2 linked regions of the Homo sapiens genome follow. The protein of the gene in region 1 interacts with the protein of each later gene in a pairwise test. Each region holds a gene or a part of one and is shown in the gene's direction. Other genes may lie near its edges. The genes, in order: THSD7A and ASAP2.

Evidence for each region.
Region 2: the proteins of THSD7A (region 1) and ASAP2 interact in a two-hybrid assay, tested with the Homo sapiens proteins (one study listed by BioGRID and IntAct).

Annotation. Positions count from the first base shown.
Region 1 is NC_000007.14:11,370,281-11,374,198, reverse strand, and holds the end of THSD7A (thrombospondin type-1 domain-containing protein 7A precursor), read left to right. Parts: 3' UTR 1-3,834; downstream 3,835-3,918.
Region 2 is NC_000002.12:9,204,327-9,208,244, forward strand, and holds the start of ASAP2 (arf-GAP with SH3 domain, ANK repeat and PH domain-containing protein 2), read left to right. Parts: upstream 1-2,485; 5' UTR 2,486-2,778; coding exon 2,779-2,904; coding exon of another isoform or gene 2,905-2,937; intron 2,938-3,918. UniProt on the Homo sapiens protein: Activates the small GTPases ARF1, ARF5 and ARF6. Regulates the formation of post-Golgi vesicles and modulates constitutive secretion. Modulates phagocytosis mediated by Fc gamma receptor and ARF6. Modulates PXN recruitment to focal contacts and cell migration.

The DNA of each region.
Region 1 (3,918 bases):
CTATATAACTTCCCTTACAAAAACAGCCAGTAGGCCACCTTTGCAGGTCATATTTTGCTGACCCCTGGTCTGGATGTTTTTTAATGCTAGCTCTCCATGGTGTCATCTTTCGTTTTCATTCATTTTTCAAAGGTGAGAATTTACAGTCATTACATTTCCCACTGTATCAGAAGTAGCTGTATTTTCTACAGATGTAGCCCTGGGAATGGCACAGTGGAACAATATTTAACTAACTCAGCAGACTTCTTGCAAATGAAAAGAAAACTCAAAAGGTGCCATTAAAAAGCAATACCATTTTCAGGCAACATTATTGCAACAACCTTTGTGAGAGAGGACACTAGCTTTTCAGGATATTTGAAAAATAATATAACTAACATGCTATTTTATCTTAAACAGCTGTGTTCCTGTAAAAGTGTTTTGGATTAGAAGGTATTTTTACCTTCATACTGGAGTATGAACTCCCCCTGCTGTTCATTAGAGTATTTGCAAAGATTACAAAAGACATCAGGTTAGGATGTCATTGTCCCCAAAATGAAAATATTTGTATGTATTTCAATAAGAACTAAATGCAGTAAGCGCTAATTCCTCATTCAATATTCACTATATTAGGAAATGTAAATCATTTCAAAGAGAACAGGTAGTCAGGAAGATGAAAATTTTACTTTAAAGCAAGGATTTAAACAAAGAAAACCATAAAAACAAAGTCCATTTTATCTGTTTTATTAAAGAGGAAGAAAAAATAATATTGTTACTTTAAAACTGTGATTGTCAATATATATAATCAGGGGTCTTCCAGATAATCCTAAAGTTGATCTCTTTGAATAAAATAAACTCCATTTGTCCAAAATAGTTAAGAAAGACTCTATTGTGGTTACTTGAAAAATTCAGCTAACCCTCTTATGAAATGTGTGCAACACCTATTAATTTTGAAATGTGGGATAGAATACCTACTAAAGCTATATTTAAGGTATTGTAAAATGTCATTAATTCAGAAAAGATTAGTATCATCCTACCTATAAGAATTAAATTAGCAAATCAAAATTATAGAATGTTATGAAAAATACATTTTATTCATAAATTAATTAGATTTTACAGCATATATGCATGCATATATATATATACACACACACACACACACACCCATATATATGAGAGAGAGGAAATTAGGTTCAACATGACCTAATATTAGAGAACATATTGGAAGGTCACTGTTTGTTAGGATAAATAAATACTGGATAACCTCGTTAGAAAGGTGGAAAGAGGAGAACGTAGCAATCTGGCTATTTTGGACAAAGGGAAGGTTATTATATTCATGTTTATAACATGAAAATGGCCTTATTTTTGTTTCTGACATGAGACAATAATGAGTTAAATATTTTATTGGAATTTCATCAAAACCTTATTTTTACTGTTCCTTCTAAAAATTTGGGAGGGGAATATAGTAGTAACTTCTCTATTGACACTTTTACCTCACCGAGGGGGTAAAAGATGTAGAACTGCTGTTCCCTAGAATGAAGGTCTGTTGTTTGGTTTTTAAAAAAAGAAGAGCAGAAAAAGTTTGACACAGTATTATATGATTTTGCTGGACTATTTCACTAGAAACCACGTAGAATAGGACTAACTGATCTCTTTTGAAAGGGGCTGATTTGCTTATTCATCAATAACTAATCCAATATGTGGACAGTAATCTTAATTTCAAAGCCTTTTTTGAGGATACTACGGTGTAGCTTAAGTGAATTTAAAAAGAGTGCATAAAAGCTTGTTTTTAATTACTTATAACAAAGCACAAATTACTTCTAACAAGGCAAATATTTATTGACATATAAGACATTCTGCTAGGCATTGTAAAAAAAAAAAAAAAAGTAATGGCTTTTGTATACATAGGTACTTAAGACAGACATCCAAAAGAAGGAAAAAATGCTTAATGAGTGAAGATAGCACTGAAACATGTTGACTTTTACTCTAGGTTTGTTTTTAGATGGGGTTAGTATTTTCCCCTACGTAATGTACATGTCTTTAGGCCACAGTATTAGGAGTTTGATTTTTCCCTGCCCCACCCTCAGGTAGGTGGCAGTGGTCATTGTAGCTTAATCAGACCCCTGTTAAGTTCCTGGGCATTTCAAGGTAAATTCACGTCTTCCTTCTCACAGAAATTGAATAGACCTCTCACACACTTATTTACCTCCCCCAACAACCTGTATCCTTGGCCCTTTCTGATTTTCTCTGCTTGGTCTCTTTCTACTCTTGACAGCTATTCTTACCTACTTCCCACTAAACATGCCCAATTTTTTAATTAAAAAAAAAAGAATTCCTATATTTCCTTCCCTATTAGAATCAAAGTGTCACTCACTCAGAGTGTGAACATCCTGATTTACACCAAATCCACTGGTCAAAGAAATGAATAAAGGGAAAAGGAAAAATGTGGAAGGCATGCAGGAAAAAAAAAAAAAAAAAAGCCCTTTTCTGTAAAAATGTCCATGCCTACACTTGCTTTAGACCATCCCATATCCTCCTGCCTCCATCTCGAGTCTTTGTTCACATTCCACACCACAAGACAGTGAGGGAGGACTGTACTTTTCAGTACCATACAGAAGGGAGAGCCTGTTCTAAAGCTGACGTGGGTCTCAATAGTACATGAGAAGCACAATTCCCAAATGATCTGGGATCTCCTGTTTATAAATATATTACCAAATTCAAGTGTGGGTTCTTCTTCTATTTCCACTGTAAGATTGAGGGTGTTGAAAAAACAGTAGTCCTTGAGCAAATCTGTGAGGAATCTTGTCAGAATGTGATCTTTCCTGGGACTAGTTTAGTTGTGAGAACTACATCTGCTTGTTCTGGGAATAAGGGTCTCCCCAGGTCCTGCCCTCAGGTGGCCCTGGCTGCAGGACAGGATTTCAGGTATCAGAAACTGGTGTGTGAGCCAAGCAAATAGTTATCCATTTATAAAAAGGATGGTTTGCAGTGTGTTATAATAATTTTATATCTAGCAGGGACAATGAAAAATGGTTATGTCTACATTATTAAATGAATGAAACTAATGCTAAACAGTTAATTTTGCATTTTTATTTTTCTGTGTTTCTACCAAGTCAGATCTTAAAAATGGGCAGTATATGAAGAGCTTTAGTTTGTGGGAGTCATGTTTTCAGTGATCAAAAATCTCTATATTATTTAGAATATAATTGTCAGTCTTGTTGTGTTTTGTAGATTTATTGTTTTTAAGCCATAGTTTCTAGATTACCTACTTTTAACCCTCAAGTAAACTTTTCCCTATTTTTCAGAAATCTGTTTGTGTTTATTTTTAGAAAGTAAACATTTAGATTCCTTTTCTGGTACTTTTTTTCTCCATTTCTATCACACAGATTTGAAGAGATCAGTATCTATCATTGTAAAATATAACTTTATTAAAATTTGCAATCTGTCTTTCTATAAATTATTATTCCCTAAATGTGTATTTTATGTTAATTTAACTACCTGAATATTTATTTTGTTTAAATAAGGAGGCAGCTGTCTAAGAATTTTTGTTAATATTACTTTGTAAATTGCGTAATGTAATTTATTTTACATTATGTACATTTCCTTTTTAACGCACAAAATGTCTATGTACAATTAACTACAGATTTGCAAATAATGTCACTAAGCTTTATTCAGTCAATACAGATGGCATGTGAAGATGTAATATGCTTTTTTACATTTTCATATGGGTTATTTGTAAATAACTATATTGCTGACAAACATAAATACGGAAATCATTTTCATTCTAATCATGTGTATCTGTGTTTTGATTTGCACCAATTGCTTCTTAAATATGGATTAAAATTTTTTTCCAGTGAATACCTAAATCCTTTTACCTACTGTATTGCCCTTTCCTGGGTTGTATAACAACTCCAATTTAGAAAGTTCAAGAAATGCAAACTT
Region 2 (3,918 bases), on another chromosome or scaffold:
CTTTTTTTTTAAAAAAAAATAATACAGGCCTACAATCTCTTACTGAAACCCCAAGGGCCAGATATGTGTGGATTCAGAAATTTTCGGATTTTAGAAAGGTAACACATTGCATATAATAACATATTCCTAATTACCCCCAGTAGGGTCTGGGGCAATACTTCATAATCAACCATGTTTATATTTTGCAGCAAAACATACATATTCACATGAGGTAGGATAAACAAGACCACACATAGCCTCACATCAGTTCATTTCAGATGAATTTTACTATTAAGAACTATTTGTAAAGCTACATTTTCAGGGATTTTTAGTAATTCTGGTTAAGGAAGTATAGGCCTGTAAGGACATTACCAGCATACTCTTCTTCTCTTGATGCATTTAAAAAAATGAGTATGTGTAGAGTGTTTCCTTGATCCATGTTGAACTTTAATTTTATTGTTATTTATTGGAAGCTACTCATTCTTATATTAATCTCAGAAAGGCATTAGCTATGTTTTGCTCTGGTCTTGCTTTAATTCTAGGCTTATGCAGTAGGCAAGTTAGATTTCTAAGGGATGATGGAGGAATAAATGGCTCTAGCATTCTACCAATTTGGTATCCTCTTTAGGCCACCAATGAACTTGGTAACTAATTGTTGTTTTCCACCAGCCTTGCAATGCAACACAGCTTTGCAATTTTATTTTTTTGAGGCTACTAAAGCTTCCTGTATCTGCAAAATTAAACTAAAAGAAACAAGAACCGGAGTTGTATATAAAGAGAGAACAGAGAATACCAAGCTTAACTTTGTCCTTGTAGAAGTATTGATTAGTCTGGTTAATGCTGTACTAGACATCAAGGAAAAACCCGACTTTCTTTCTTAGATCCCTCATAGCCTCATAGAGACCAGCCCTCTACAAATCAAGACTTGAAAAGTTATTCAGCATATTCCCTCATGTCAAAAACTGTAGCTGGGAAACTAGGTAGGCGGGAACAGAATCTGCCTGGTGTTGGAGAGGATGTATTAATATAAATAATAAACACAAAACATGAATTGTAGAAGGTTGCAAATAGAGGAAAACTTCAGACACCAAAAGGATCAAAAAACATAAAAAGAAACAGATACAATTTTTAAATTGTAACTTGTTGTCTAGTGCAATGATAAAAGCTATCCACGAATACAGCGATTTTAGAAAGTTAAATTTTACATGCAGTGCTACTAAAATACCAAAGGCCATACATAATGTCTGACCCAAGCTGCCACCTCATATAGCAACTTCTTACATGGGGGCTTTAAAAAGATTGTTTGACTGGTCTACTGTCCTGCAGTGTCAGGAGACGGCTTTGTCTGACATATTGAATTTCCAGTGTCTCTCACACTTCCTCCTTTTCAGATGCACAAAAGGTTTTTGTAAAGTTTCTCTTGGTTTTACCGCTGGCAGCTACAGAAACCATGCCACAAGTCTGGTGTAGAGTTATAGGGTGTGATTTTATTTGACTGGTATCTTCAGAGCTTCTGGATTTTTCAGTATAACCGAGAATTTCCTTAAGAGCTGTAAATAAAAATCGGTACCAGTTCGAACCCTTTACTGGCCCGGTTTTGTGTGAGGTTGGCTGGCTGCTGTAGCACGTTCTCCCCCTCCTCCTCCTCCTGCACCCCCTCGGTTCCCTCCTCTGCCTGCGGGAATACCACTTCAGGGCGTTCAGCAGCCTTCCCAGGGTGGGTCCTGGCCTAGTACCCTAAAACTATAACCGAGAATACCTATCATTGGGCAGCCTAGGAAACGCGACTGGGACTTTTAGTAGGGGCCCCTCACCGCTCTGAAGCACTCACACTTGAGTCAGGGAACATGGGTTTGAATCCCCACCCGGCCGTTTATCTTGTGCTCTTGGGCACACTGTGTCCCCTATATAAAATAAGCACCCATCTCTTCATCTGTCTCCTAGGCCTGCGACGATGCAATGACTGCACGCAAAGCGCACATTCACGGTCAGGTCACTTCTGGCGTCCGGCTGTGGTCCCCGCAGGGTGCCCGCCGGCGGAGCGCATCCTCCGGCAGGGGGCGAGCTCCGCACCCCGCTTTCCTCATGGGCCGGCGCGGCCCGCCGTTCAAGTGGGGAGCCCAGAGGTGCTCCGCGCCGTGGGCGGGGGGCGGTTGGCGCGCACAAGGCCGGACTCCGGCGGGGCGCACCTCCACACGCACCCTCGCGGGCAGCGGGTCGGAGTCGGGGCCTCGGGCCGGCTGGGGGCGGGGCATGGGCGCGGCGCGCGGGGCCCGGAACGCCGAGACAATGCGGCGCGCGGCGGCCAGGAACGGCTCGGCGGGCCGGGGCGCGCGCCGCCTTCCTTCCTGCGGGATCCGCTTCCCGGCGGCGCGGCAGCGGCGAGCGCGCCGATTGGCGGCCCGGTCCTCCCGCCGCCCCGCCCCACGCCCGGCCGGCCGCCGCCCCCGGCCCGGACCCGCCCCTCTCCGCGGGAGGCGTCGGGGCCCGCGGCTGGGTGGCGGGTAGTTCCCGCCGGCTGTGCGCGCCCGCCTCGGGGCTCGCTCTGAGAGGACGCGGCGGCAGCGGACTCGGAGCCCTCGGCGCGCAGGCGGGCGGACCGGCCGAGCTGCGCGGGGCTGCGCGCCGCCCCTGCTCCGCCGCCAGGCCCCGCGCGGCTCCCGCGCCCGGCGCTCCCCTTTGTCCGCGGGCCGGAGCGGCGGCGGCAGCGGCGGTGTCCGAGCGGCGGTCGGAGCCTGCTGCGGCAGTTGAGGCGGCGGCGCCCCTGCGGCTGTGCGCCAGCGCCCTCGCGCCGAGGCGATGCCGGACCAGATCTCCGTGTCGGAATTCGTGGCCGAGACCCATGAGGACTACAAGGCGCCCACGGCCTCCAGCTTCACCACCCGCACGGCGCAGTGCCGGAACACTGTGGCGGCCATCGAGGAGGTGAGGCGGCCTGCGCGGCGGCTCCGGCCGCAGGTATCCCGCGCCCCAGCCCCGCCCGCCGCTCCCGCATCCGCATCCCGAGAAAACTTTCTTTGCTCCGAAGCCGGACGCGGCCGGGCCAACCCTGCCCGAGACAGAAGCCCTTTGTTCCCGCCTAGGTGGCTCGGAGGAGATGGGTGATGGCCACCTTGGGCCTCTTTAAGACCTCCCCTCTCTCGGCCTCGTGGCCCTCGCGGGGTTCCGCGGCCTGGTCTTTTCCCCGCAGCGCGGCCAACTTTGTCCAGAGTCGGGGTCCGCGGCGAGCGGGGGATCCCGCTGCCCGCCGCCGCCCGCCGCCGCCCGGGGTCTTTGGTACCCGGTGCGGACCTTATCAACTTGTTCTTGAAGTGGACCGGCGGGGGCAGCTCCGCGCTCCGAGCTCCCCGCCGCAGCCCCCGAGCGCCGCAGGGCCCCCACCCTCGGGTCCGCGGGTCCGGGGCATCCCGGGCTGCCCGGGAAGGCGTGCCCGCCTCAGCCAGGGCGGCCTGGCTGCGCTCCACCCGTGCCCGGAGAAGGAACTGCGGGCAAGGTGTGTGAGAGTCGGCGCTTCTGGGTCCAAGAAGCCTCCAGGAGCCGCTCCCCGGTTACCTGGGTCTCACCTGCTTGAACCCGGAATGCCGCCCTTCCCCCTCAACCTGGAAAAGGCCTGGTTTTAGTAAAGTGCTCTCAAGGTGCAAAGTCATCACGCCTAGCTGCTAAGCAGTACGCTCTCCAGGTCCTGGGGAGAGGAACACGTAGGAACGAAGAAGCTTGGTTGAAAATTAAAGCCGTGGGGAAAGGGGCAGAGTCTGTGAGTCCAGGGGCCACCGTTGGCTGTGGTTTGAGGCACATCCTCACCTGCAGTCCTCCTTTTCCTTACCCATCAAACGGGATTAGTAATGCATCCTTTCCAGGATCAGAGACTGTGTGAAGTGCTTAGCACTCTGCTCGGCTCAGAATAGGTTTACAAGTCACACGTGTGGCAATAGTGAATCT